Homo sapiens: one gene and its partners. The protein of the gene in region 2 purifies or fractionates together with the protein of the main gene of each other region. This does not show direct contact. Each region holds a gene or a part of one and is shown on either strand. Other genes may lie near its edges. The genes, in order: NAP1L4, SLCO6A1, GTPBP4, FAF2, DDX18, UFD1 and CTSH.

Evidence for each region.
Region 1: the proteins of SLCO6A1 (region 2) and NAP1L4 purify together in Homo sapiens (affinity purification with mass spectrometry; one large-scale study listed by BioGRID and IntAct). This does not show direct contact.
Region 3: the proteins of SLCO6A1 (region 2) and GTPBP4 purify together in Homo sapiens (affinity purification with mass spectrometry; one large-scale study listed by BioGRID and IntAct). This does not show direct contact.
Region 4: the proteins of SLCO6A1 (region 2) and FAF2 purify together in Homo sapiens (affinity purification with mass spectrometry; one large-scale study listed by BioGRID and IntAct). This does not show direct contact.
Region 5: the proteins of SLCO6A1 (region 2) and DDX18 purify together in Homo sapiens (affinity purification with mass spectrometry; one large-scale study listed by BioGRID and IntAct). This does not show direct contact.
Region 6: the proteins of SLCO6A1 (region 2) and UFD1 purify together in Homo sapiens (affinity purification with mass spectrometry; one large-scale study listed by BioGRID and IntAct). This does not show direct contact.
Region 7: the proteins of SLCO6A1 (region 2) and CTSH purify together in Homo sapiens (affinity purification with mass spectrometry; 2 studies listed by BioGRID and IntAct, with this or other methods). This does not show direct contact.

Annotation. Positions count from the first base shown.
Region 1 is NC_000011.10:2,981,819-2,985,921, forward strand, and holds part of NAP1L4 (nucleosome assembly protein 1-like 4), read right to left. Parts: intron 1-4,103. UniProt on the Homo sapiens protein: Acts as a histone chaperone in nucleosome assembly.
Region 2 is NC_000005.10:102,370,879-102,374,345, forward strand, and holds the end of SLCO6A1 (solute carrier organic anion transporter family member 6A1), read right to left. Parts: intron 2,617-3,467; coding exon 2,474-2,616; 3' UTR 2,459-2,473; intron 1,249-2,458; exon of another isoform or gene 1,246-1,248; 3' UTR 896-1,245; downstream 1-895.
Region 3 is NC_000010.11:994,480-998,582, forward strand, and holds part of GTPBP4 (GTP-binding protein 4), read left to right. Parts: intron 1-1,449; coding exon 1,450-1,553; intron 1,554-1,626; coding exon 1,627-1,763; intron 1,764-2,728; coding exon 2,729-2,829; intron 2,830-4,103. UniProt on the Homo sapiens protein: Involved in the biogenesis of the 60S ribosomal subunit. Acts as a TP53 repressor, preventing TP53 stabilization and cell cycle arrest.
Region 4 is NC_000005.10:176,486,134-176,490,236, forward strand, and holds part of FAF2 (FAS-associated factor 2), read left to right. Parts: intron 1-221; coding exon 222-356; intron 357-2,817; coding exon 2,818-2,894; intron 2,895-4,103. UniProt on the Homo sapiens protein: Plays an important role in endoplasmic reticulum-associated degradation (ERAD) that mediates ubiquitin-dependent degradation of misfolded endoplasmic reticulum proteins.
Region 5 is NC_000002.12:117,821,191-117,825,293, reverse strand, and holds part of DDX18 (ATP-dependent RNA helicase DDX18), read right to left. Parts: coding exon 3,998-4,103; intron 3,645-3,997; coding exon 3,544-3,644; intron 3,433-3,543; coding exon 3,233-3,432; intron 3,148-3,232; coding exon 3,033-3,147; intron 726-3,032; coding exon 586-725; intron 355-585; coding exon 193-354; intron 1-192. UniProt on the Homo sapiens protein: ATP-dependent RNA helicase that plays a role in the regulation of R-loop homeostasis in both endogenous R-loop-prone regions and at sites of DNA damage.
Region 6 is NC_000022.11:19,454,834-19,458,936, reverse strand, and holds part of UFD1 (ubiquitin recognition factor in ER-associated degradation protein 1), read left to right. Parts: intron 1-797; coding exon 798-866; intron 867-2,018; coding exon 2,019-2,084; intron 2,085-2,302; coding exon 2,303-2,350; intron 2,351-3,168; coding exon 3,169-3,257; intron 3,258-4,103. UniProt on the Homo sapiens protein: Essential component of the ubiquitin-dependent proteolytic pathway which degrades ubiquitin fusion proteins.
Region 7 is NC_000015.10:78,920,943-78,925,045, forward strand, and holds the end of CTSH (pro-cathepsin H isoform a preproprotein), read right to left. Parts: intron 2,177-4,103; coding exon 2,051-2,176; intron 1,264-2,050; coding exon 1,188-1,263; 3' UTR 116-1,187; downstream 1-115. UniProt on the Homo sapiens protein: Important for the overall degradation of proteins in lysosomes.

The DNA of each region.
Region 1 (4,103 bases), on a different chromosome or scaffold from region 2:
CTCCGTCTCAAAAACAAACAAAACACCCTTCAATGGTCCCCCGTCACCTTCTGCAGAATACACATTCCTACTGATTCAGGCCCTGTCTACCTCCCCACACTCATTCCCACTCACGCTCCTCCACCATGTTTGCTGCAATCACAGTATTCCTGAGGTTAGTTCCCTTCTCACATATTCTAAATGCAAGGTGTGAGACAGTCAGACTTCATAACAATTGTTTAAGGACAACATTCTAAGAGCTAAAACACCACTTACCAGCTGTTAAAGAATGAGGTGTTTTTTTCTGTTATATACCTTTGATAATGTCTCTATGAACATCTTGGCTTATATGGCTTCCCACTCCCAGTTATCCTTAATTGATATGGCAATAGCAGGACCGCTACAGTAGCATTTCTGGGTCAAAGAGCATGAATGGATTCTGATACATACTGCCAAAACAGTTACACAATAACATCAACTGTAATTTGGCTACTTAATTGAAGCTCTCTATTGCCTAAGAAATGTATCTCATAGCACCTTCCTTACCCCACACATACACACTAATTGCTGAAAGAAGCCTACTAACCTGGAAACATCTAACACTGTCAGTTTAATGGACAGATTCTTGTTGTCATCACCCTATCAGTAACACCTCGTAAAGACACATACTTCATTTCCAGCACCTCCTATACTAGCAAGGGACCTACATGTCAGGCACTTCATACATTTAATACCAAGAGAAACTCCACTAGGGAGGGACTATCCTCAGTTTACACGAAAAGAAGCTGAGGCTTGGAAAGGTGAGGTGCCAAATTGAAAGTCACACGGCTAGTAAAACATGCATTCGTGTTTCAAATCTGACTCCTTCTAACCTTTCCCTAGTACCAACACCACTTCACTTCTGGCTGTTTCTACTTGCTCATTAAAGATTCTGTTGCTGCTAGGCTGGGCCTGGGGGCTAACACCTGTAATCCCAGCACTTTGGGAGGCCAAGGCGGGCAGATCACGACGTGAGGAGTTCAAGACCAGCCTGGCCAACATGGTAAAACCCCGTCTCTACTAAAAATACAAAAATTAGCTGGGCATGGTGGCACTCGCCTGTAATCCCAGCAACTGGGAGGCTGAAGCAGGAGAACTGCTTGAACCCAGGAGGCGGAGTTTGCAGTGAGCAAAGATTGCACCACTGCACTCCAGCCTGGGCAACACAGCAAGACTCCATCTCAAAAAAAAACAAAAAACAAAAAACCTGTTGCTGCTATTGGAACAAGTGACAAGCAACAGCTTAGTCAGGGTTGAAATCCTACTGTTCAGCAGCATCTCCAAGAAATCCATTTTGTCTACAAATGGAGTGTGACAATACTCCCTTTTGATGCTGTTCACTATGCAGCCCCAGAGCCCCTAACAGTTCCTGGCATAATAAATATCTGTTGAAAGCATAAACCACCTGTGTTAGGACATGAGCCAAAGAGGTTCACCTTCCCATGGAATGGTACCTGTTCCAACTTAACAGAGTCCATTGATAAAATGATTCACTCAATTTTCATTTAAGTGAAGGCTGTGCTTTTTTAAAGAGACACACAGTCTCACTCTGTTACCCAGGCTAGAGTGCAGTGGCAGGATCATAGCTCACTGCAGTCTCAAACTCCTAGCCTCAAGTGATCCTCCCACCTTAGCCTCTCAAAGTGCTGGGATTATAGGACAGAGGCACCATGCCCAGCCCGGCATGTGCTGTTTAATACAATTTTTGTTAACAAGATGACAAGGCAGTTAAGTTAAACCCAACACGGTATTCTGGAAAAAAAAAAAAGTGCTAAATCAAGGATAGAAAAAAAATAATGAATTTACACAATAAAAAAGAAAATAATTTTGACTAAAGAACCAACCAACCCAGAACTCAATGCCTAGAACAAGACAGACACACACTGAACAGCCTGGTTTCAAATCCTACCCCTATCACAGATCACCTGAAGCTCAGGAGTTTCAGACCAGCCTGGGCAACATGGGGAAACCTCGTCTCTACAAAAACAACAAAAAAAACAAAATTAGCCAGGCATGGTGGTGTGAACCTGTAGTCCCAATTCAGGAGGCTGAGGCAGGAGAATCGCTTGAGCACAGGAGGCAGAGGTTGCAGTAAGCTGAAATAACACCACTGCACTCCCGCCTGGGAGACAGAGTGAGACTGTCTCAAAACAAAAAGAAAAAAAAAAAAAATGAGGCTGGACACAGTGGTTGATGCCTCTGGTCCCAGCTACTTGAGTGGCTGAGACAGAAGCAACACTCAAGCCCAGGAGTTGGAGGCCTGGCGGCTGCAGTGAGCTATCACTGCGCCACTGAACTCCAGCCTGGACAACAGAGCAAGACCCTGCCTCAAAAAAAAAAAAAAAAAAAAAAAGGCAACAAACCCTACAATGGCTGGCTATGCTCACCACCACGACCACAGCAGCAACCCAAACCCAGCCCTAGTCAGTGAAGATTTAAAAACCCTTTAACAAAGGCCAGGTGTGGTGGCTCCCACCTGTAATCCCAGTACTTTGGGAGGCCGAGGCGAGCGGATCATCTGAGGTCAGGAGTTCGAGACCAGCCTGACCAACACGGAGAAACCCGTCTCTACTAAGAATACAAAATTAGCCGGGCATGGTGGCGCATGCCTGTAATCTCAGCTACTCAGGAGGCTGAGGCAGGAGAATCTCTTGAACCCAGGAGGCGGAAGTTGCAGTGAGCCGAGATCTCGCCATTGCACTCCAGCCTGGGCAACAAGAGCGAAACTCTGTCTCAAAAAACAAACAAACAAAAAACTAACAAACACACTTCAATGGTCCCCCGTCACCTTCTGCAGAATACACATTCCTACCAATTCAGGCCCTGTCTACTTCCCCATACTCATTCCCACTCATGCTCTTCTGCATAACCTTCCTCTGGACCTCAGTTTCATCATCCACAAACTAGAAGACAGTGGCTACCTGAGAAACTGTTAATGGAGACAAATTTCCTAGTACATAACAGCAGGCCAGGTCTCTTTTCACTTTTGTAACTGCCATGCATATAGACTACATCTATTCCTTGATATGAAACCAACAAATCAAGTTACTTTAAACACTGCACCCTTTATACAGGTTGAGTATCTCTTATCTGAAATGCTTGGGACCAGAAGTGTTTCAGATTTTAGAATATTTGTATAAACATGATCAGGTATCTTGGGGATGGGACCCAAATCTAAACATGAAATTCATTCACGTTTCCCACACATCTTATTCACATAGACTGAAGGTAATTTTATACAATATTTTAAATAATTTTGTGCATGAAACAAAGTTTTAACTGTGATCCATCACGTGAAGTCAGGTGTGAAATTTTCCACTTGTAACATTAATGTCAACACTAACGGAGTTTCAGAATTTGGAGCATTTGGATTTTTGATTTTGGGATCAGGAGTGCTCAACCTGAATAAGGAAAGACAATGTAGAGAGGTGGTATTATAAACAAGCTAGAGTTCAGTCAAGTTTCAGCACCACAAATTATTTTTGTTTATCAATCCCTATCACCCTTAAAACAGAAAGTTATAAGGAACTATCAAATATACAGGTTTGAGGAAAATAAATATCTGTTTGTTTTAAATGTTATGTTCAGTTTAATACTAGTCTTATAAAACCACAGCCCGAAGACTCATCCAGAAGGTTCTCTCACTTTTAAAAGGCAATCAAGGGATCTATACAACCTGGTGACTATAGTTAACAACAATGTATCACATAATTGAAAAATTGCTGAGAGTAGATGTTAAGTGTTCTTGTCAGAATCAGTATACCACCTAATGTGAATTAACTTGACTTAGCCATTCCACAATGTATAGTACTTCAAAACATCGCATTATACATCATAAATATAATTTTGTGTTAATAAATAATAACTAAAAATAAATAAAAGACAATCAAGTTAAATTATGAAAGGGATACCAGGCAAAAGAATGTTGTAAGTTTTCTAAAGTTCAGGTTCCCTCCCAAGGTCAAAAACTTTAACTGTGTCTACAATTCTAAATCTGAACTGGCAAGCAAATTTTCACCCAGTTAATTGGGTCGAGGAAAAATAAAATAAAATAATTCCCATGATTACACAAATGTTCTTTTATT
Region 2 (3,467 bases):
TCATTTTAAGAACTCAGAACAAGTGCAACTTGAAGAGCACAAATAAATTATCATCAATTTTAAAATATGAGCATTTCCATATGCATTCATTTACAGTGTCCCTTTAGGCAAAATTAAGCACCAGGACTGAGTAGGCTTATGGAGAAAATATTGTTAAGGTTAAACCATTCAAAAATATTCAACTTTGTAACCAGAGCTCTAACAAAAACAATCAGAATCTTAACACACCTTAGCACAGTTAAACCTCCACTAGCATTTTTACCCACCACCATAGTCAGTCCTTTGTAGTATTAAATGCTGGGGCTCACCTTCCTCCTTTAAAATGTAGGTCCTTGAGGATATGAACTCCAAAAAGAGGCCAGTTTCATCAAAGTTAGAATTCCAATATTTAGAAGTATCTTTGCAGCTTCTTCACCTGCACTTACAGTATCCTTAGGTACATTAATACTCTCAAAAGTATAATGAACCTTGATGGCATTAACTCATTCAAAATTGACTCCAAAGGAAGGCACTTCTGTGGGATTTTTAGCATTTTTTAAGATTTAATTTATTGCTAAGATCTTCTCTATAATAGTGAAAAACTTCCCCTGATTACTTAAAGAGGTATTAAATTGGAATTAACCAATAGAACTTCTGAGTTATATTTACATTACTTCCCTGTTTATCAATCCTCCATGAATTAGTTTGTGATACAGAAACACGTACTCTGTAATAGCAAAAATCTATATTTAAATTTAAAGTTTCAACAGTACTTCCCAATCCATAATTTTTATTATACCTTCACTGATTTATTTTCTGAAAAAAAAGAAAGCAAGAGAAACATAAACAGGTAATATGTATCTATACACACACACACACACACACAAACACCCCACAAACACACTGTACAAGCATGTTCAAAGTGGCTTTGAATGTTATTATTTTACTTTATTTCCTAGTTGTATAATTTTTAATATTTCTAGACAGCAGAATATTAAGAAGAAATGTAAATAATCTAAAATTATTAAACTTTAATTCTCCCAGTAAATCCTAAAAATTCTACATACATTAAAAACATTATCAGAAATGTTTCACAATAGGACACTTTATTATGAAAATGCAGATCACCATAAATATATTTTTGCTACTTATGTAAACATAATGTGTGATTTTCCTCTTCTGAAAGTTGGGCACAGAAACAAATCTTGGAGAATCTGTAAAAGAGAAACTCGTTTTCACACTCTGATCCTCAAATGATCTGCAATCCTGCTGGTTCAAACAGAGAAGAGTCAAGCAATCAAGTAGAGTTTTACATGAAGACTAGTTTATAGGTTTTTAAAATGCATGTTGAAATAAAATATACAACAGGAAATAAAAATGTGTAGTAAGATATGAATATTCCCTGCTTCACATTTTCTTCTGCTAGCCACGACCATGAATAGGGCAATGTCTACCCATCCACATAGGGTCATTGACTAATGTTAATAACAGAGGAGAAATTTTGTCAGCTATTATCACTTCTCCCAAGAAAACAAAGAAACATTGTAGAGAACCTTGTTCCACAACAATCTGATTTTTATACAATATTTGGAAAATCTAATTTCGATTGATGTACAATAATGTATAAAAAATTATAACAAAATCTCTATACAAATGCATTTTAGCTTAAAAAATCTATAAATAGTTGACACATTTTCTACATTTAAATATTTCTTCACATTAAATAATTACGATTAATTATAAAATGAAGTGTAAAAGCAAGCAGAAAAGTGGGTTTCAACTCAGATTATCAGCTAGTCTTTATCAATAAAATCCAAGTGAAGGTAAAAAAAAAAAGGAAAAAGGTAACAAAAAACAGGTAGAAGTATATGAGTATATTGAATTTTATGTTTACTAAGATTAACGAAACATCAAAATATTTATTATAAACTGGTCAATTAACCAAAGAAATTTTCTGAGGAAACCTCTGTATGTCAAATCATAGATAAATAAAATGTTAATTTTTAAAAGGTTTAAAATAGTCCTTTTTGGAAAATAAATATAACTTTAATTTCAACTTTAATTATATGAACTTAAGTGGCAAATATACTTTTATTTAGAAAAATGGAGAAATAAATATCTACTGCCCAAATCAAAAGTACTAAGAATAAGCTAAAAAGGGAACCTAATTAATTCCAAATAGCAAAGGCCAACAACTAATGGGCTATCACGTCAGTTAAAATTAACCTAGGTGTATTTTCCTATTTTCACTCAATCTCTTTCAATCAAAGTATTATCTTTCATTGAAAGTATTAAATGTGTATTTTATATTTTTAAAAATTTTAAACACAGACTATATTATTATATTTGCACTCAAAATATAATAAAATATATAGAATTATATGAAGCACATTTGTTAAACATGTAATTACATTATTATTACTTTAAATTTTATTAATATTAATATTTCATTGATAGATTGACAATGTGTAATTCTTACACAATGATGATCCAGTTACAAGTCAGTTTCTTCTTTTTTCTTAACTTTTGGATTCTTCACAGTTACATCTGGGAAGTCAGTGTTCTCATTTAGACGACGTTTGTATATGAAAAATGCAATAGTAGTGAAGATGATAGTGCATAGTTTGCAAAGAAAACCTAAATTTAAAAAATGCAATGATCAGATATGTCCATGTATTTAGAACAAAAATGTAGGCAAAAATGCTATTTACCAAAGAAAGGTAAGCATATTTCACCTATAAAGGTATAAATTTCCCAATTTTAGAATGCAATTAATGCCATAAAATTATATTAAGTTACTTAAAGGAGATTTTTAAATGTTTATAATATGTTTTAGATTTCTTAGACATATTACCCCCTTCCCAAGTGCAAGGTGTGCTATTACCTCATAGACTGTGTTAATTCTGAAACATGAAATATAAATTCTGACTTTCAAAACTTAGCTATCAATAGGAACCAGAGCTAAGTCATTTCATGCAGCTTTGCTCTTTTTGAAATATTCATCATTTTTCAAATAAAACAAATATTACAGAAAAGTTCATTAATTTTGCAGGTTTTTTCATTTTCATGTTTCAAGCTGCAGAAAGTTAATACATTACAACATTACAAGCATTATACAAATGTACTTGAATATTGGATGCAATATTTAATTAATTCTTTTTCAATTTTTTTAAATTAATTCTTTTTTTTTTTTCTTTTGAGACAGGGTCTCACTCTGTCACCCAGGCTGGAGTGCAGTGGCACGATCTTGGCTTACTGCAGCCTTGACCTTCCCGGCTCAAGCGATCCTCCCACTTCAGCATGTGCCACCACACCTGTCTAATTTTTATAGTTTTTGTAGAGACGGGGTTTTGCCATGTTGCTCTCTCAAACTTGTGAGCTCAGGCGATCTCCTTGCCTTCAAATCCCAAAGTACTGGGATTACAGACAGGAGCCACCACCATGCTTGGCCTATTTTTCTTTTTCTTGAAACAGGACCTCCCTTTATT
Region 3 (4,103 bases), on a different chromosome or scaffold from region 2:
AGGCTGGTCTCGAACTCCTGACCTCAGGTGATCCGCCTGCCTTGGCCTCCCAAAGTGCTGGGATTACAGACATAAGCCACAGTGCCTGGCCAAGAATGAGATTATTCTTAACTGATTTGATATTAGGAAATATTTGATTTTAGCCAACAACATACTTTGATCTACTTAGTATCAGATTTTTGTGGTTCTTTTTAAGAAGTTTTGTCTTTTTCATCCTCAGTGTTATAGCCATCAGAGGTAGGAGAGTTCAAATGTATTAACATTCTATTACTCTTTTTAAAGCCAGGACTAGTTATCTGAGAACAGCTTCAGAGTGGAGGGTTAGATATTAAGTTGTCATTCACTGAATGCTTATTGTCTGTCAGGTACTGTTCTGAGTCCTAGGAATCCAGAAGTGGTAAAGGTTCCTGCTCTCATTCTGGTGGAGAAAAGATAGTAAATAGCATGTCAGATGAATGCAGTGAAGCCATGGAAGGGAGTAGGGAGTATCTGTGCGGGGAGAGGGTGTCAGGCCTGTAGTCAAAGAAGCAGCAGGTGCAGGAGACCCAGGAGGTGGGGCAGGCTAGGGAGGTGAACACTGGGACATGGGATTGGAGGTGGTAGTCAAGGGTCGAGTTTATATGCACTGGTGAGATATCTCAGGAGATGCTGGCCTGGTGATTTAAAATGCATTAGTAAAATGTAGACGACATTTAAATCTATCTGAGATCACCTTGGAAGGGAATGTAGGAAGAAGGGTGCTGTGGGGAGCATGAATGTTTGGGGTAGAGCTGTGAGCACTAGCCAGCACAGGACTTAGAGGGGTCAGACTCTCCACCTAGAAGCTGTGAGGAAAATACCGCAGGCAGGATGCATGGCCAGCCCGCAGCGTTTCAAGAGGTCTGTGAGATAAAAACTGAGAATTGGTCATTGGGAGGTCCTTGGTGAGCTTGTAGGCTGTTTAGATGGAGTGGTGGACACAGAATTCTGGAGAGAGTGGGTTCAAGAGAGGGAGGAGAGGAGAGACACAGTGTGTCTTGGGAGCAAAGAGAGGGAATTGGAAGGATTTTGGGGCTATGGGAATTTTTGATTTTTTTTCCTAAAGATTGAGAAATAACAGCAAATTTTTAGGCTGATGGGAATAGTCAGGTGGAGGGAAGAATTTCTAGTGCTGAGTTCCTGAGCAACAGGAAGGGTACATGCAGGGTCGGGGGCTGGTCATTGCTGGGTCCCACAGCTCTACCACTGCACTGAGAGCGAGGTGGGTGGGAGCCGTGACTGTCGGCACCCGCATCCCTTCTGATGCCTGTTTTCTCAGAGGACTAAATAGACAGGGCCCCTGGCCAGGAGAGGGAACTGGGGAGGAGACACTGCAGGCGTGGAGGGAGAGGGAAAGAAATTGTTCTTCAAGTGGTAGGGATGAAAAACTGCTGGCCCCAAGTGACCGTGGTGTGCTTTTGTTTGTTACAGGATATTCATCCGTTCTATGCTGATTTGATGAATATTCTCTACGACAAGGATCATTACAAGTTGGCTCTGGGGCAAATAAATATTGCCAAAAATTTAGTGGACAAGTAAGGTACTTTTTTCTGTAGTGTCTTTTAAGTTATCGAAAGTGGAAAAAATAATATTTTTTATTTTTTACAGTGTTGCTAAAGATTATGTGCGACTGATGAAGTATGGCGACTCTCTCTACCGCTGCAAACAGCTGAAGCGTGCGGCCCTGGGACGGATGTGCACAGTGATCAAGAGGCAGAAGCAGAGTTTGGAGTATTTGGAGCAAGGTGCTTGTCACGCATCCGCGGGAACCGTGCTAGCATCCTGCTGAGAGGATGCGTCCTTGTTGAGGACTTGAGATGTCTGTTTTTCTTGTATTTTGGAGATGACAGGGTCAGTTATTCTTCCTAGCTTTACCTATGAGAAACAGTAATAGGCTGGTTTTTATTGAAAATAAATACTTACAAATCAATAGCACTGATAAGAAAATTTATATATTTCATATTTAATAGGTAAGGCATACACAAAAAAGTCACGAGAAAATACTGAAAAGTATAAAAACTAAGGTGGCTCATAGTTTATTATTGACTTTTTTATTTTTAAAAACACTTGTATTTAATAGGACTTTCTGAATTAATGTACTAGGATTCTGTTGAAACAATTACTTGCTTATTGTGTGTATTCTTACATGACAAATTATTTTGACTCATTCGGTTTTGTTTTCTCTCCTGCATCTTAGAAATAATTTTTAACAAAATTTGTGATACTTGGATGCCTTGCAGGTGCTTTGCTACAGATCTGTGTGGTCTTCATGATGGCCGGGGTGCCACCCTGGAGCCGTGTTTGTTACAGACGAGGTGGCAGAGTGGCAGTAACCCATGTTGTAGCCCAAACGGCATGGCCTGCAGGCTTCAAAGTGCACTGGTTCCCTAATGTCATCTTGCTAATGAGAATTGTCTGGACACTGCCAGACATGCTGTTGGCCCCACCTGTCACCTAATGAATTAAAACGTGGGCTTAGAAGGGCTGAGGAATATGATTCTTACCAGAGCCAAACTTGGGAGATAGCAATTGAATATACTATGTGTATACTATTACTTTCTGCAACTATTTTCTCCATCACTTTTGCATTACAAAAGTTGGAGTAAGATGAATATCACCATAGGCCTGGACTGTAACTAAGTTGAAAAGAAAATTTAAAGCAAATCTTAAACTTTGAATTTCTTAATTTTTCAATTTGAACTTTTCCTAGTGCGTCAGCATTTATCCCGTTTGCCAACCATTGATCCGAATACCAGGACCCTGCTTTTGTGTGGGTACCCAAATGTTGGGAAGTCCAGCTTCATCAACAAGGTTGGTCTGGTTTTTATCGTAAAGCAAATCATCTGACTATTTTACGTCAGTGTTACTGTATTCTGGCGGCGTGGGATTCAGGATGGCCTTGTAGGTCAGTGTTAACTGTATTCTGACTGCGTGGGATTCAGGACGGCCTTGGTAATAATTTCGGCCTCCGAGTTGGTCCTTGAGTAAAACACTGCCCTGGTCTGCAGGAGTTCCCGGTGCCTGAGCACGCCGAGCTCCTCTTGGTGAGGATTTACTTTGTCTGTATCTACATTTATATTACTATTACAGAAGCCATTACTTTTTGTTCTTGTGTGTGTCCTATAATTTCTAAGGAATTTGAGACATGTAAGTGCATTTTTGTTGACAACTGGGGAGGTTTTCTTGGGTGTTGTTGGCCTGTCCTGGAGTGGCTATGCCAGCGGGGCTCCGGTGGCAGGTGACACTCACCCAGCTGGGGTCTTCCCGTCTGCAGCTGCATCTGAGTGATCTGTTACCTTGGTTGCTGTGTCAGCTTTCACATGAAATCGTATGTGGTCTAGTAGAGGGACGGTGCCGAGTCGCTCTTTCCCTGGGTGAGCTCACTGACTAGGATAAGTGTAACATTTAAGGGACTCGGTCATTTGTTGCTTCAGGAAAGTTTGGCTGAGTTTCAGGGACTCAGGAAGAGGCAAAGCAACATTTAAAATGTGAATTTACAACCAGCAACAGCTCATGTGCCAAGAAAATGGTCAAATTTTATGGCTTACTCAGTGCCAAGATCACTTTATTTTTAATTAAAAAAATTTTTTTCTTTCTTTTTGTTGAAACTTTTTCTTTTTGAGACAGGGTCTCGCTCTGTTGCCCAGGCTGAAGTGCAGTGGTGCAGACATGGCTCGCTGCAGCCTCAACCTTCCGGGCCCAAACAGTCCTCCCACCTCAGCCACCCAAGTAGCTGGGACCACAGGTGCACGCCACCGCACCTGTTTAATTTTTTTATTTTTTGTGGAGATGGAGTCTCACTGTGTTCCCCAGGCTGATCTCAAACTCCCGAGCTCAAGCCATCCTCCTGCCTCAGCCTCCTGAAGTGCTGGGATTACAGGCATGAATCACTCCACCCTACCTTAAGATCACTTTTGCTTTGAAATAGATTTGTGAGTTTTATTTTGTCTACAGGTTGCTGTGACATGGTGACCAGCAAAGCTCTGCAGGGTCCTTGCTGATTTTTCAAATGCTTGTCAGCTCTGAACCTGCCCTGAGCTCTGAGCCAGTGCTCTGTGGCCGATTTGGTGGCCACTGCACTGGGT
Region 4 (4,103 bases), about 74 Mb from region 2:
AGTTTCCTCGTCTCCTCTACCATGGATGCATTCTGGAGTGACAACTCCAGTTGCCTCCAAGTACAGCCGGTTAACAGGCCCATGAAGGTGCACTCCTCAGTGACCTTTTGGTGTATTCATGACCATCCTGTTTTGGAATACCACGCAATAGTTGCCTCACCTCTTGTTGTTGGTTGATTTGAGCATCGCTGAAACTCTTGCCACTCCGTTTTCCTTCTCAGGCTGCTGTACAGGACAGATTGAATGAGCAAGAGGGCGTACCTAGTGTTTTCAACCCACCTCCATCACGACCCCTGCAGGTTAATACAGCTGACCACAGGATCTACAGCTATGTTGTCTCAAGACCTCAACCAAGGGCAAGTTATTTCATAGCTGGGATTTCCCCCTTTTTTATTTATAAGTATATCCACTTGGTTATATTGATCTCCCTGTGACAGGAGCAAAACAAATATTTAGAATGTAAACCTGTTAGTTAGACTTGGCCCGTTGGGTGTATTATTTTGCCTTGATTCCTCAAGGAATTGTTACAGAAACTACTCATTTTTTTTTTCTTTTCTTTGCCAGTTATTTGGAGAGTGTTTTCTGCCTCTTAAGTTACAATTTGTTTACTCAAGTTCTTTGTTGCTTCAGTTTACTTAATCTTAAACCAGTTTTGAGGAAGTATATGGAATCTTTGTAGGAGCTTTGGCCACGTCTTTGAAATTAGCCTTGAAGGGCTAGTAGCAAGGAGGTGGTTCACTTAAATTTGACAGACATTTAAGAGTACTCCAATAACCTGGTATCTTGCTACTAGGGATCCAGACATGAATAAAGAGCCAGTCTTCCCATTTCAAATTCAATTTCTCACAGTCTATTGAAGGAAGTCAGATGTGTACACTGATAATGAATTCTAAAGAACTGCTTGGACTTTCTTTTTCTTACCCCTGGGGTTATACTCACCTCTTATACTTTTATACTTGCATTTAGAATCCTAAGAAAACACTCCCTTTAACATTGCAGCAGTTAGAATTTACTCCATCATCAAGCCTTTTTGTGGAGTACTTGATTTTTGTTGTGTTTTGTTCTGTTTGAGACAGGGTCTCACTCTGTCGCCCAGCCTGGAGTGCAGTGGCATGATCTTGGCTCGCTGCAGCCTAGACCTCCCGGGCTCAAGCAGTCCTCCACCTCAGCCTCCTAAGTAGCTGGGACTACAGGTGTGCGCCACCATCCTGGTTAATTTTTGTATTTTTTGTAGAGATGGGGTCTTGCTATGTTGCCCAGGCTGGTCTTGAACTCCTGAGCTCAAGTTATCTGCCCACCTCAGCCTCCCAAAGTGCTGGAATTACAGGCTTGAGGCACTGTGCCTGGCCTACTTGATGTTTTAAAACATGTTTCTAAGTAGTGCTCTGTGGTTTTCTGAAGTACAGTAGCAGATTCCCATGTCAGCCATGGGGCTCCAGAGCTTCCTGGCCACAGACACAGAAAGTGTCTCAGGTTAACACAATGTGACAACTATGAAATGCTTTATAAACTATAGAGCCCTGGATGTATGCTAGTTTTAATAATTAATAACAGCAATAATAATTAGCATTATTACTAAGATAAGCAGCTATATGGGGATTTGTCATTGTGGTTAATATAATTATTTAATGTTTATATACCAATGTCCAAGGTTAGTAATAGTGATTATCTTTCTTGCTATTTCTATATACATTATTTTAGGTTTTTATGTTTGTTTGTTTTGTTTTGGGACAGAATCTCCCTCTGTTGCCCAGGCTGGAGTGCAGTGGTGTGATCTCAGCTCACTGCAACCTCAGCTTCCCAGGTTCAAGCGATTCTCCTGCCTCAGCCTCCTGAGTAGCTGGGATTACAGGCGCCCACCACCGCGTCTGGCTAATTTTTGTATTTTTAGTAGAGACAGGGTTTCACCATGTTGGCCAGGCTGGTCTCAAACTCCTGACCTCAAGTGATCTGCCTGCCTTGGCTTCCCAAATTGCTGGGAGTACAAGTGTGAGCCACCACACCCAGCTAATTTTTGTATTTTTAGTAGAGACAGGGTTTTACCATGTTGACCAGGCTGGTCTCGAACTCCTGACCCCAGGTGATCCATCCGCCTCAGCCTCCCAAAGTGTTGGGATTACAGGCGTGAGCCACCAAGCCTGGCTTATTTCTGTATACCATATTTTGATGTGTAAATCTAAAAAGGAAAGAATGAGTGTGTATCATTTGGGGAACATTAATTTGCAATTGAATTTGACAAGTCTATAAGTAGCTGCCAAAAATAAGTATTAAGGCAGTTTTGGTTTTTATTTGTTTGTTTGTTTTTTTGAGACAGAATCTTGCTCTGCCCCCAGGCTGGAGTTCAGTGGCGCGATCTCAGCTCACTGCAACCTCCGCCTCCTGGGTTTAAGCAATTTTCCTGCCTCAGCCTCCCTGAGTAGCTGGGACTACAGGTGCATGCCACCATGCCTGGCTAATTTTTGTATTTTTAGTAGAGATGGGATTTCACCGTGTTGGCCAGGCTGGTCTCAAACTCCTGACCTCAGGTGATCTGCCCCACTCAGCCTCCCAAAGTGCTGGGATTACAGGCAGGAGATACAGCTCTGGACCTTAAAGCAGATTTAATACAAAAATTCTGCAAAAAAAAATGATAGTAAGATGAAATAAGACCAAAGATGGTGGCACTTAGAAGGATGAGGTGGCCAGGAAGAAGGAACTGTACTTTAGAGGAACAAATCACATGGAAGGACCAAAAAGAGTGAGAAAATCTGACCTAGCCATTTGATAAAATATTAGGGATTGAGAGAATTGTCTCTAACTTTGTTTTTGGACTTTCAGGGGCTGCTTGGATGGGGTTATTACTTGATAATGCTTCCATTCCGGTTTACCTATTACACGATACTTGATATATTTAGGTATGTACCTTTGGATTTATGTATTAGTAGAATAGTAAGACTTTGGAGCTGAAATTTAGGCCAAAATAAGCTTTATGCTCTATCAATGTTGACTTACCAATTTGTCATGAGATGGAATACACTTCCCGAACTGTCTTTTAATACAACATACAAGTATTTTAAATTGTTGAAGCATTGGCAGGCATTGTGAAATGGAATTGTTTTTAAATTAGTCTTACCTTTTGTTTGCAAAAACCAGTCTGACTATATTTATTTGTCTCCCCCTCCCCCCCCCACCATATTTGTCACCTCTACACTTCCTAGTTGATGTCCACACCCTTTCCTTTCTAACCACTATCATCTCCTAGCTTCACACTCCTTAGAACTTTCTTCCTCAACTACTTCTCCTCCACCTGACTACTCACAATCCCAACAAATTCTCTTGCTCTGAGATTACCCAGTTTGCCCTTGATTCCTCCCACAATAGTTGGACCTCCCTAGACACTCCTGTTACACCTTTTCTTTCTTTTTCTTTCTTTTTTTGAAACAGAGTCTTGCTCTGTCGCTGTCACCCAGGCTAGAGTGCAGTGCCACCATCTCGACTCACTGCAACCTTCACCTCCTGGGTTCAAGCGATTCTCATACCTCAGCCTCCCAGATAGCTGGGATTACAAGCATGCGCCACCACGCCTGGCTAATTTTTGTATTTTTAGTAGAGACAGTAGAGATGGAGTCTCATTTTGTTGGCCAGGCTGATCTTGAGCTCCCGGCCTCAAGTGATCCACCTGCCTTGGCCTCCCGAAGTGCTGGGATTGCTGGCATGAGCCACCATGCCTGGCAGCTTCGGTACCTTTTCACTTTGCTCTGGCAGCCCCTAGGTTGCAAACACTGGAACCCTTTTATGTATATACCCACTTGCTTCATACCTTCACCTTTCTTCTAGCTTCCTTCATGTACCATTAAAAGAGCTCATCATTGGAAGCTACAGAGGGTCCAAGGCCAGAAAATGAGTGGGGCTCAACTGGCCGGGCTCTGTGGCTCACGCCTGTAATCCCAGCACTTTGGGAGGCTGAGGTGGGCGGATCACAACGTCAGGAGATCAAGACCATCCTGGCTAATACGGTGAAACCCTGTCTCTACTAAAAATACAAAAAATTAGCCGGGCGCGGTGGCTGGTGCCTGTAGTCCCAACTACTCAGGAGGCTGAGGCAGGAGAATGGCGTGAACCCG
Region 5 (4,103 bases), on a different chromosome or scaffold from region 2:
GTGTCTTGCACTCTTCGAAAGTCCTCATACCCCTCCACACCCAGCAGCGCTCCCCCACACAGGATCCATCATCTAGTGGTGATCAAACTACTCAGAACAATGTTTCCAGGAGAGGGCAATACCTCCAATCCTACAATCTATAGGATTTAATAAGCATACCCTGTTTTCAATGAGCTCATCATCATCACTTACATGAATGGCCAAGACGGGCAAATCAATGTAGTTCAGCAACTCATAGTGGTATTTCACAGACATACAAGATGAAAAGAAGACCATAAGCTTCTTCTTTCGGTTCTTCTTAAGGAATGTAAAGAGCAGAAGGAATCTCTTTTCAGAAGGACAAACAACATATCCCTAGAAAGCGTTTAAGCAGACAGATACAAATGAACCAAGTGGACATTTTCCATTTCCTAACTTGTGTAATTTCATCAAGAGCACTGATAAACACAGTGTGTAAACTGTCATGCCTCACCTACAGCATTTTAAAAGTTCATTAACCCATTTGCTTTCTGAATGATCCTTCCAACAATTACATAAAAACACCAAGTAAGATCCCTACAGTTTTCAGTTATTGATAAAAAGTACCTGTTCAAGACCATCCACTGTTGCATTCGCTTTATCATCATCAACGCCAACATACAATGGCTCCTTTTTCAGAGAAATCCTTGCCAGGTCTTCAACTTTTCGAGTTTGGGTGGCAGAAAAGAGCATAGTCTGTCTACGTGCTGAAACAGATACATATAAAAATAACCCCAATCTTTTAGGGAATCTTTACAATTGCCTCACAACTACAAATATTCTAGGTAGAGATATCAGAAATGGGAGATATGATGTTTCTACAGAATCTACAAATATTACAAAAGGTAAAAAGGGTATATCATGAAACACTAGGTCTATAAATTTGAGGACTTAGATGAAATGGACAAACTCCTTTGAAGACAAACAACTGAAGAAAATAGGAAAACTTTAAATAGCCTTATATCTACTAAAGAAATTTTAGTTATAACCTTCATGTAAAGAAAATTCCAGGCCCAAATGGATTCCATTGGTGAATTCTACTGAACATTTAAGAAAAAAACATCAATTATTCACAAACTCTCCAATAAATTAAAAAGAGGGCTTACATGTCAACTCATTCTTCGAAGTCAGTCATTACACTATACAAAAACCTGACATGACATGACAAGAAAACTATGGACCAATACAATTCGTGAGCACATATACAAAATTTGAAATAGAATTTTAGTAAAGTGAATTCAGCAATATATAAAAAGGATAATGGCTCATGTTTATTCTAGAAATGGATCAGGTTTATTCTAGAAATGCAGGTTGGTTCAACATTTGAAAAATCAACCAATACAATTCACTATGTTAACTAAAGAAAAAACATGATTATTTCAGCAGACAGAAAAAAAACATTTGACCATCTATTTCTGATTAAAAATCCTCAGCAAACTAGGAACAGAAGGGATCTTCCTCAATCTGATAAAAGGCATCTATATAAAACCTGCAGCTAACTTCATATGTAGTTAATGGTAAAAGACTGAATGCTTTCCCCTAAGATCAGAACCAAGATAAGGATGTCTGCTCTCACCACTTCTATTCAGCACCATACTGGAGGTTCTGGCCAGGGCAATCAGGCAGGAAAAAAAAATTAAATAAAGAGGTGAAACTGTCTTTATCTGCACATGATTGCCTATATAGAAAATCCAAAAGGCTACAGTCATCTGGAAAGTCATACTGAATAATCATTCGGTACAGGATTAACTGTCTTGCTAGATACAAGATCAATATAAAATTCAACTGTGTGTGCATATATATGTGTGTATATGTGTGTGTGTATATATGTATATATTAAAGCAACGAGCAATTGGAACTTGAAATTTTAATGAAACACTCAGAGATAAATCTGACAAAAGATGTGAATAAACCTGTATCCCGAACCCCCCTAAATATGATAGAGAAAATATCGAATACATGGAGATATACCTTATTATGGGTTACATGACTCAATACTGTCTTCCTCCAATAATCTCTATTCAATAAAATCTCAGTCAAGATCTGAGACTTTTTTGGAGGGAAGGGGGAGAAACTGACAAACCAATTCTAAAATTTATATAGAAAAGCAAAGGACAAGAATACCACAACTTTAAAAGAGAACAAACTTGGGGCTAACATTACCTGATGGTCAAGACTTAATAGGAGGAACTGGAACTTTCATACACTGCTCATAGGAATGTTAAATGGTACAGCCGCTTTGGAAAACATCTGGCAGTTTTTTAAAAAGTTAAACATACACTAAACATATACCAACTAGGACACTCCTAGGTTTACTTAAGAGAAAAGGAGATATATGCCTCTACAAAGAGTTGTAGATGACTGTTCACAGCAACTTTATTTCCAGAAAATGCAACCTAATCTAGCAGCAGAAAACAGATCAATACTCACCTGGGGACAAGGTATACGTGTAAGGAGGGGTGGGAGGGAGAAATTGAAAAGGGGCAGGAGGAAACCTTTGACTGTGATGGACATGTTCATTTTCTTGATTGCAGCGATGATGTCACAGTGGTAAACAAATCAAAGAACATCAAATTGTACATTATAAATGGGTAGATATAATTATACTTTGACAAAGCTTTTAAAAATAAATTATATAATGAAGGAAACCATGGTCTTAGTTATAACCAGTTCATAATGTTGCAAGTACTATAACCAAGGTATGTACAAGTAAGGCAAAAAATCTGCGGCTTCTTGGGGGATGTTAGATGAGGTAAGAATGGGCAAGAGGTGGAGGACAGGACCTATGTGAAGACTGCTTAACGTGCCTTATAACTTCTAAAACAGCAAAACTATTATATCAAGTTATAATACATTTGATGCTTGTATTCCAAATTACCTTTCGGGTTAATTGGCACAACTACCTCACTTGGCTATGGTAAAGTTCTGGCATTAGTACAGTTTTTCTATAGGAACAACTCTTATCTACCTCCAACAGATACTTTGCAAACCAAATGCAGATGCTACCTACTTACTTGGCAAAAGTTTAATAATTTGCTTTAATTCCTCTTCAAACCCCACATCCAAGATACGATCAGCTTCATCAATAACCAGACACTGCAGGTTTTTATACATAAATCCTGGGGTATTCTAACAAAACAAAGGACAAAGAACAACCATTAGTTGTCAGTTTATGTTTCATACAAGACAATGAGACAAGCACTACATCTCTTACCTGCATATGGTCCAGCAGACGGCCTGGTGTGGCCACAATGATGTTGATCCCATTACCAAGTTTCTGTGCTTCAGCAGATCTGTTACTGCCACCCATTATCAAGCCATAGGTATGCACGTGGTGAGTCATCAGCTCCTTAAGAACACCAAAGGTTTGCATGGCTAGTTCTCTAGTAGGTGAGAGAATAAGGACTCCTGTTCCTAAAAATGATATATGGTAGAAGTCTAAATGTGGCTGTCACCACTGAGTCCGTAACAGCTACAATAAACCTCTAGTGAAATAATGGCAGAAACAAGCAGATGAACGCTTACCATTCCTGGGCATGAACCTTAACTTAACAATGAGTTCAACTGCAGGGATGAGAAAAGCCAGGGTTTTACCACTGCCTGTTTTTGCAGCTGCTAGAAGATCCCTAAATATTAAAAAGGGAAAGGAGAAAGACATTTAGCCTACTCATTTACGACGTACTACATACACACACCTTAGGCACTACGGCTAGAACATGAACAAGAAACGTCTACAGTGCTGAAATTGATCACCTGGGTTATATACTGAAATCATAAGTCAGAACTGTGCTACAACAGAAGCAGAACACCTTTCGAACACTTTCCTTCAAACATCAGTAATTAACTTAAAGCCTTTAATGTATGCTGGATACATGACCCAACATATAGTACAAAATCAACAGAATATACTGGTATGTTCTTTATCATCTACTAGTTCTAAAAATAGATGCCAATATCTAAGCTTCAATGTTAATCATACCTGCCTTCCAGAAGTGGTCTGATACTTTTATGCTGAATTTCAGTCATGTTTGTAAAACCCATTTCTTTTATTGCCTTCAGAGTGTTTTCATTGACAAGATTACATA
Region 6 (4,103 bases), on a different chromosome or scaffold from region 2:
TGGTTAAGGCAGGCTGCACTATGATGTTTGGTAGGTTAGGAATATTAATACATTTTTAACTTATAAGTTTATGGGACTTGGTTCCATCATAAGTCAAGGAGCATCTGTACAGTGGTATTAGTGACGTTGGTATGAGCATTCTTAGAATTTTCTCATTGGGTATAGCTAGTTATTTACTTAGAATAAATTTCGAAGGCCGAGTGCGGTGGCTTATGTCTGTAATCCCAGTTCTTTGTGTGGCCGAGGTGGGCGGATCACCTGAGGTCAGGAGTTCGAGACCAGCCTGGCCAACATGGTGAAACCCCATCTCTACAACAATACAAAAATTAGCCAGGTGTAGTGGCACATGCCTATAGTCCCAGCTACTAGGGAGGCTGAGGCAGGAGAAGTGCTTGAACCCTGGAGGCGGAGGTTGCAGTGAGCCAAGATCGCACCACTGCACTCCAGCCTGGGCGATAGAGCGAGATTCTGTCTAAAAATAAATAAATAAAATAAATAGTAAAGTTCCAGAAGTGAACTTTCCAGGTTAAAGGTTGTTAGTGTCTTTTGCAGTTAGCTGTATAACTACCTTGTCTAATTTGAACCATATCTGGGGAACAGCATCTCTTCAGCGATGGGCACAGGGCAGCCTGTCCCTTATGGCAGTGTTGTCACAGCAAGAAGTGCAGCTGTAGGTTGTGTCATGGGCATGAATGCTGTGTCATTCGCAGGAGCCAGTAGAGCCACAGTAACATGGACAGCGACAGCTCCAGTGCTGCCAGGAAACCATCCAACTGATTTCTGTGTTTGCCCCACAGATCTACGAACTGCGTGTGATGGAGACCAAACCCGACAAGGCAGTGTCCATCATTGAGTGTGACATGAACGTGAGTGGCTCTGTCCAGTTACAGTGAGCCTGGGCCCTGGGAGGATGGGCAGTTGGTGACCACTGCAGGCCAGGGTGTCAGGAGGGCATCAAACAGCCCCTGGGACTCTGGGTAAAGAGGAGGAAGATGCTGTCAGAACATCATGAGGAGACTGTGACCTTGTGATCTATCTCAGGGCCAGTTGGGGCAACAGAGTTTGCTGCCAGTGCTGCCATGGTTAGCTCTGACCCGTTGAGGAGTGAATATTCTTTTTTTTTTTGAGACTTAGTTTCACTCCTGTTGCCCAGGCTGGAGTGCAGTGGTGCGATCTTGGCTCACTACAACCTCCACCTCCCAGGTTCAAGCGATTCTCCTGCCTCAGCCTCCCGAGTAGCTGGGATTACAGGCATGTGCCACCAGGCCCGGCTAGTTTTGTATTTTGGTAGAGACAGGGTTTTACCATGTTGGCCAAGCTGGTCTCAAACTCCTGACCTCAGGTAATCCACCCGCCTCGGCCTCCCAAAGTGCTGAGATTACAGGTGTGGGCCACCGCGCCTGGCCGAGGAGTGAATATGCTTAAGAGCTAAGGAAGCGTACTGAACCTTCTGAGTAGGAATGAAGTGCTGATGCACACAGCATCCTGGTTGTATTACTAGGGAATACTGCTGAGCAAAAAAAGCCAATCCCAAAAAGTTACTTCGTTATATAACATCCTCAAAGTGACAGAACTTTCGAAATGGAAGACAGACCAGTGGTTGCCAGGGCTTAGGACTGGTGGAGGGGGCTGGGAGACAGCTGGGTATGGTTATAAAAAGACAACATGGGCAGTCCTAGTGGTGGTGAAACTGTTCTACATCTCAACTGTGGTGGATACATGCCCCACACAGTGATTACATTGTGTAGAACTAAAGATACCCATGAACAAAAACATGTAAAACTGGGGAAATCTGAATAAGAGCAGTGGGTTGTGCCAGTGTTGATATCCTGGCAGCAATACTTTACTGTAATTTTGTAAGATGCTACCGTTGGGAAAACTGGGCAAGTGTACAAGGCATCTTTTGTATTATTTCTTAAAACTGCATGTGAATCTACAGTTGTCTCAATTAAAAACAAAAAAGGAAGCCAAGGGTGGTCATGTCTCAATATTTTACTTTTAAAATCCTGGAAACACAGGTGGACTTTGATGCTCCCCTGGGCTACAAAGAACCCGAAAGACAAGTCCAGCATGAGGAGTCGACAGTAAGTGTTATCCTCAGTGTCCTTTGCTGTCCTGCTGCATGCTGCTTTTGAGTTCCTGGCAGTGGCTCGTGGGTGGCCTCTGCTAGTGTTGGTGTAGTCATATCCTCTGCGTCCCTTCCAGCCATGCTTCCGGGGGACATCCTAGCCGGGGGTGGGGGTGAGAGGGAAGCTGGGTGTCCCCGCTGAGGAGCTCACCTGTTTTTCTTTTTCCCTGTCAGGAAGGTGAAGCCGACCACAGTGGCTATGCTGGAGAGCTGGGCTTCCGCGTGAGTACCAGACCACTTGACTTATATTGCTGTGCCCTCTGCTCCTTGAAATTAGAGCACTCACTCAAGGTGTTCTCCATGATGCTCGATGGACATCAGCAGGGGTTAGGCCTCTGGGTACCTGTGCATATGCAAATCTGCCACTCGCTCAGTTACCAAACCCTTTTGTATCCACTCTCTCCTGGAATCTTCCCAACAGCCCCATAAGGCAGCCCAGATTTTTAAGAATTTCTAACCTACCGAAGAGTTTAAATAGTACAGTAGACATATACTGTTCCCTTAGGTTCACCAAAAGTTACCACATTTGCTTTCTCTCTCTTGTAAATCATGTTTCCTTTTTTCTTTGCCTGTACCATGTAGGTTGCAAACATGACCCTTAGCATAACTACTGGCAAGGCTCCATGGGAAACAGGTGGAGGTGGTTCATGTGTGGGCACTGAGGTGGCAGGAGGTGCCAGGAAGCAGCAGAGAGGGCAGAATGATGGGAAGCTGAGCTATGGGGCAGTCACAACAGTAGCCTTAGCCCACCCATAGAGCTTGAACTGGGTGGCCCTGCAGAGGCAGGGATCAGGTCTTTTAACCCAACACTGACTGCTGGCTGCCCTTGGCCAAGTGGCTGTCTTCAGCTCATGGCCACCCCCTGAGGAACTGGGCAGAGTTCTTAGCTGCCAGCACCCCAGCAGTTGAGGAGTCAGGGCTTCAGTCCTGAAGGGGTCTGCACAGCACCCCCAGCTCACATCCCTGCAGTGATCTCCAAGCAAAGGACATATCGTCCTCACACTTGGGCTTATTATATGACTCACCTACTTCCTGTCTAGGCTTTCTCTGGATCTGGCAATAGACTGGATGGAAAGAAGAAAGGGGTAGAGCCCAGCCCCTCCCCAATCAAGCCTGGAGATATTAAAAGGTAGGTCTGTCCTGGCTCTCCTCCAGGACAGGAGGAGGATCTGTGCCAGCCCGCTGGGGTCGGGCAGCCTCACCCCAGTTCTGGAGACAAAGCCTGGGTCAGTAGTCTCCCAAGGGACTAAAACCCTTAGCTGCTCTCCTTGGTGGGGTGGAGCACAACATGCCCCTCCTTCCACAGTGCCACCCCCAGTACCACTGTGGTCCAGCCTCTCTCCATACCTCTCCATACCCCCAATTCAGCCTCTTCTTGCCCCCACTGGCTTTCCTAAGATGCGAGTCTGATTAGATCTGTCTCTTACTCAAAACCTTTCTGGTCCCTATTTGGTGATCTGCCTATTTTCCTGTTTTGTGACTTGGAATTATTAATCAGGTCACATTATCTCAGTTCCCCTGAAAGTTCCCTGAGGAGCTACCTCAGATGTGCTTCTGTTGCTGGGTCCGGGGACCCACAGCAGACCCTTCCTCTGGTGGCCATGATGGCAGGGGCAGGGCTGAGGTGTGTCAGTTGTCTGTTGTGTGTGTGAAATCAGAATACTGGAGTGAGAGTCTAGCCACCTCAGGGGGTTCTGTGAAGCTCAGGACAGTGACAGTGAGGGCTTCCCAATCCTTCAGATGACCCCTCTCCATAGACAGGTACAGAGCCTAAAGCCCCTGGCCCTATACCCAATATTGATACCAAACCAAGAAGTCAGTTACTTTCTGCTTCCCTCCTGGGAGGATGCCAGGAAGCACCAAAGGGCCCAGGTGGGGTGCAGCAGCATCTTTTCTGCGTTCCTCTTGACTGTCAAAAATGAATTTTAGTCCTTTTTTCCTGGAAATAACATTTCTCTGTCTCTGTCTCTTCTTA
Region 7 (4,103 bases), on a different chromosome or scaffold from region 2:
CAGGTGATCCACCTGCCTCGGCCTCCCAAAGTGCTGGGATTATAGGCGTGAGCCACCATGCCTAGCAAGGTGATTGTTTTTTGTCTTATACAGTTGTGGTCTTATGTTACTAGAATTTTCTAATAAATTAAACTATATTTGCATTATCTAAATAAGCCTTATCATGAACATATATATTTTTCAAATATTCTCAAGCCTTTAGCTTTTCAGGAAGCCCAAATAAGATGACAGCTTTTATCATTAAGAAAGTCTGTGAGCCATAGGACAAAGAGCTGGTGGACTCCAGCTTGTTCTACAGACATCCCAGAGCCCGGAGGCTTCAGGAAGCAGCAGCAACTTCATGGCCGCCCTCTAAACAGAGATCAAGATTTCTCAAAAGGCAAGATAAGGGAAGGGATGGTGTGGAAACGACAGGAGCATCTGGGCACGTTTGAAATAAATAAGGGGTTGGTGAGGAAGGGGTGGGCAGTCTCATGTGGAGGTGGGGGGCAGAGTCTGAGTAGGAGTAGGCAGCTGAGACTGGGGAGGCCACACAGAGAAGTACAGGCTTCTGGGCTGACATTGTGGGTTTGAATCCTGCCTCTGCCGCAGCTTGGCCCGTTTTTCTCCTTCCTCCCCACCTCTCCACTCAGGTTTGGGACAAATAGTCAAGATCTCAAATTAAGCCTGCTCTTCATCCTGGATACCCCATCTGGTGGATAATACCGCCAGCACCCCCACCATCCTCCCAGCCAGAGCCTGGACACCCCCTGATGCCTCCCTCCTGGGAGACTGAGTGGCGAGGACAGACCTGGTTTGAGTCATGGCCCAGGACCAGCATGCTCCATCTGGGGAGGTGCTCACTCAATGTTTATTGAACAGCGAATACAGAAAAGACAGTCCCTGGAGCTCTATATGTGGAAAGTAGCCCTTCTGGACAGAAAGAATATTCGTGGTCCATGTGGTTTGAGTCTGTTAAGAAGGACACTAAGGCACATGGCTGGTGATCTTTGCGTCATAGACACGGGTGAGCTCATGGTGGAACTCCTCCTTGTCTGTAGGTTTCCAGGCTGGGCACAGAGGTGAGGGCAGAATGTTGGGGGTCCCAGTGGATCTCCCCACAACTTCCTCCAGGGCAGGATTTCCACCCAGGCCCAGGCTGCCCGTTCCTCTCCTTCTCCGCCAGTCTGCGCTGCGGCTGCCACGGCTCACACCAGAGGGATGGGGTAGGAGGCGCAGGCAGCCAGGCCACACATGTTCTTTCCGCGCTCGATGAGGAAGTACCTGGGCAGAAAGAGGAGCTGAGGCCCGGCCGGCGGTCTCCCCACCACAGGCCTTTCTAGAATGTTTTGCTGCTCACCAAGAGCTGACTTCAGGGGTGAGACCCTCTAAATTTATTCATAAAACAGTAGCATTCGGCTTATTTGATCACCGGCAAATCACGGACCTGACTTTGTGAAGAATTCATTCTTCCCTCTCCTTAGCTGCCAAATGAATGATCCATATCCCACTTCTCCCGAAAATTTACCGAGGGCCCCCTCTTAGCCCTGGCCGGGCCCTCACACAGCTATTTTATCACCAGGAGCCCGAGGGAACAGGAAAGCTCTCCTTTTCAGACAAGGACATGGAATCTGGGAGGACAGGACAAAGGCACAGCAGCATATACACCCAGGCCGCCCCATGCCAGCCTTTTCTCCCGGAAGGAGGGGCTGTCAGTGATCAGGGGTACATTTGTTGCTTTGATTTCTCAAAGACGGACCCTCCCAGACACTGATTTCGTGCCAGCAGAGTTCCAAGTTCTGAGCTGTTTTCCTAGCAGTCCTTCTGAGCCAGCTGGCCTCCTGCTCTCCCTGCAGCGTCCTAAAGACCTGGGGCCCTGTGAGGGCTGCAAATGGGGGCTTGGAAATGTGGAGGCTACATTCTCATGCTCCCTTTCCCCCTGGCCTGGCCTAGGGCTTGGCTGACCAGCTCGTCTGTGGAAGCCGTAACTCTGAGGTGGAAGTGATGCCCCCAGGGCCTCCAGGCCTGAGCAACATCCCCCTCCCAGAAGTGGGACCTGGGAGCTGCTTACCCGTTCATTCCCCACTGGGGACCCCAAGAGTTTTTCACGATCCAGTAAGGGATCCCATTTTTTTCTCCATACCCAACAGCCAGTACTGCATGGTTTACTTTATCTGGAGTTTTATGGCAGGAAGTACTGGAAAACAAAATTCAAAAAGAGGTGATCATATGGGAAGGATAAAAGCAATGACAGTCCCATCCAACAACGCCTCTTTGAGCGCTTTAGAGCAATGTTCCCCACAGCGGACCAGGGAGGCATGTAAGGTGGTGATGTAATCACATTTAGTCTCCGTGAGAGAACTCCTTTCAGTTCTTTTTTTCTTTTGAGACGGAGTCTCACTCTGTTGCCCAGGCTGGAGTGCAATGGTGCAATCTCTGCTCACTGCAACCTTCACCTCCAGGGTTCAAACGATTCTCCTGCCTCAGACTCCCGAGTAGCCTGATTACAGGCGTGCACCACCACACCCAGCTAATTTTTGTATTTTGGGTAGAGACAGGGTTTCATCATGTTGGCTAGGTTGGTCTCGAGCTCCTGACCTCAGGTGATCCACCCACCTCGGCCTCCCAAAGTGCTGGGATTGCAGGTGTGAGCCACCGCACCCGGCCCTTTCAGTTCTTTTGGTTCTTCTGCTTCTGTCAGGAGAATCTCCATATGGTGCTGGCCCGTGTCTCACCCCTGACACTTTCTACTCCCTCTTTCCTGGCAAGGAGAGAGCCACCTTCCTGCTGCACCTTCTGTAGGCAACAGTGTCTGGCAGACTTTAACACAGCTTTGCTTTGTTGCCACTGCATTTATTAAATATTACTTTATACCTATGGCAAAAATACAACTTTTTCTGTTTACAAAAGTGAACTAGCCTCCATAAGGAAATTCCAAGAAATTCAAGAGAACAAACTGCAGTGGTCAGGTGTGAATTCAGCTGATGTGTAAGTGGGCCATAGGCTCGCGCCAGGGCCAGGTGCCGGGATCCAGGCAGCATGCATAACTGTCCCTTGGAAGCCCTGTTTGGCAGGGAGCAGGTTGGCAAAGAGGCTGCTTCTCTACAGTGGCCTGAGGGCTCTGACAGTGGGAGGGCGACAGAGCCCCCAGGAGGTGGGGGGGATCCAACCCAGCGGGGGGGGGGGGGAGGGTGGGCAGGGTGGGTCAGGGAAGGCTCCCTGTGGAGGCGGGGAACGCCCATGGAACTGCGAACCCTTCTGCGTGGCTGGGGTGGGGGCTGCAGGGTGGAACGGCGGGGACGGGTTTGATGGCAGATGAGTGTGGAAAAAGAGGGAGGACCAGATCATGAGGGTCCCCCTCAGGGTAGGACCCTGGGAAAGCAGGGACACTGGTGTGTTCAAAGGTTGGCGTTGGCAAGAGGAGTGTTTCAGAAGGCAGACAGCTCCCAGTGGAAGCTGGAACAGTGTGTGGGGGGTTAGGGGGTCCAAGGACAATGGTGACCAGGGCAGAGCCTCAGGGAGGGAGAGGAGAGCACAGACGTGAGTGACATTAGTGAGTGACGTTAACGGGCAGCAACTGATGAAGGGAGGGAAATGAGGCTGCAAACCAGGCAGGCGAAAAGGTGTGGGTGAGAGAAACCCCATAGTAAAGAGGCTAAAGCTTGGTTTTTCTGAAGAAGCCTGGGGTGACTCCTCCAGCACAGGATCCTAGTGTGTGAGGGCAGCTACTCTTCTCCCTATTTTACGTCTTCAAATCTTTAAACATGGGTATTTTTTTTTTTTTCTGAGACAGAGCTTTGCTCTGTCACCAAGGTTGGAGTGCAGTGGCACGATCTTGGCTTAGTGCTACTTCCACCTCCTAGGTTCAAGCCATTCTTGTGTCTCAGCCTCCCGAGTAGCTGGGATTATAGGCATGCACCACCACGCTGGCTTTTTTTTTTTTTTTGTATTTTTAGTAGAGATGGGGTTTCGCCATGTTGGCCAGGCTGGTCTTGAACTCCTGGCCTCAAGTGATCCACCTGCCTCGGCCTCCCAAAGTGCTGGGAGTACAGGCATGAGCCACCACGCCTGGCCTGAACATGGGTTTTTTTTAAACTGGAGGCAACTCTTCTGTTAAGGAGCAC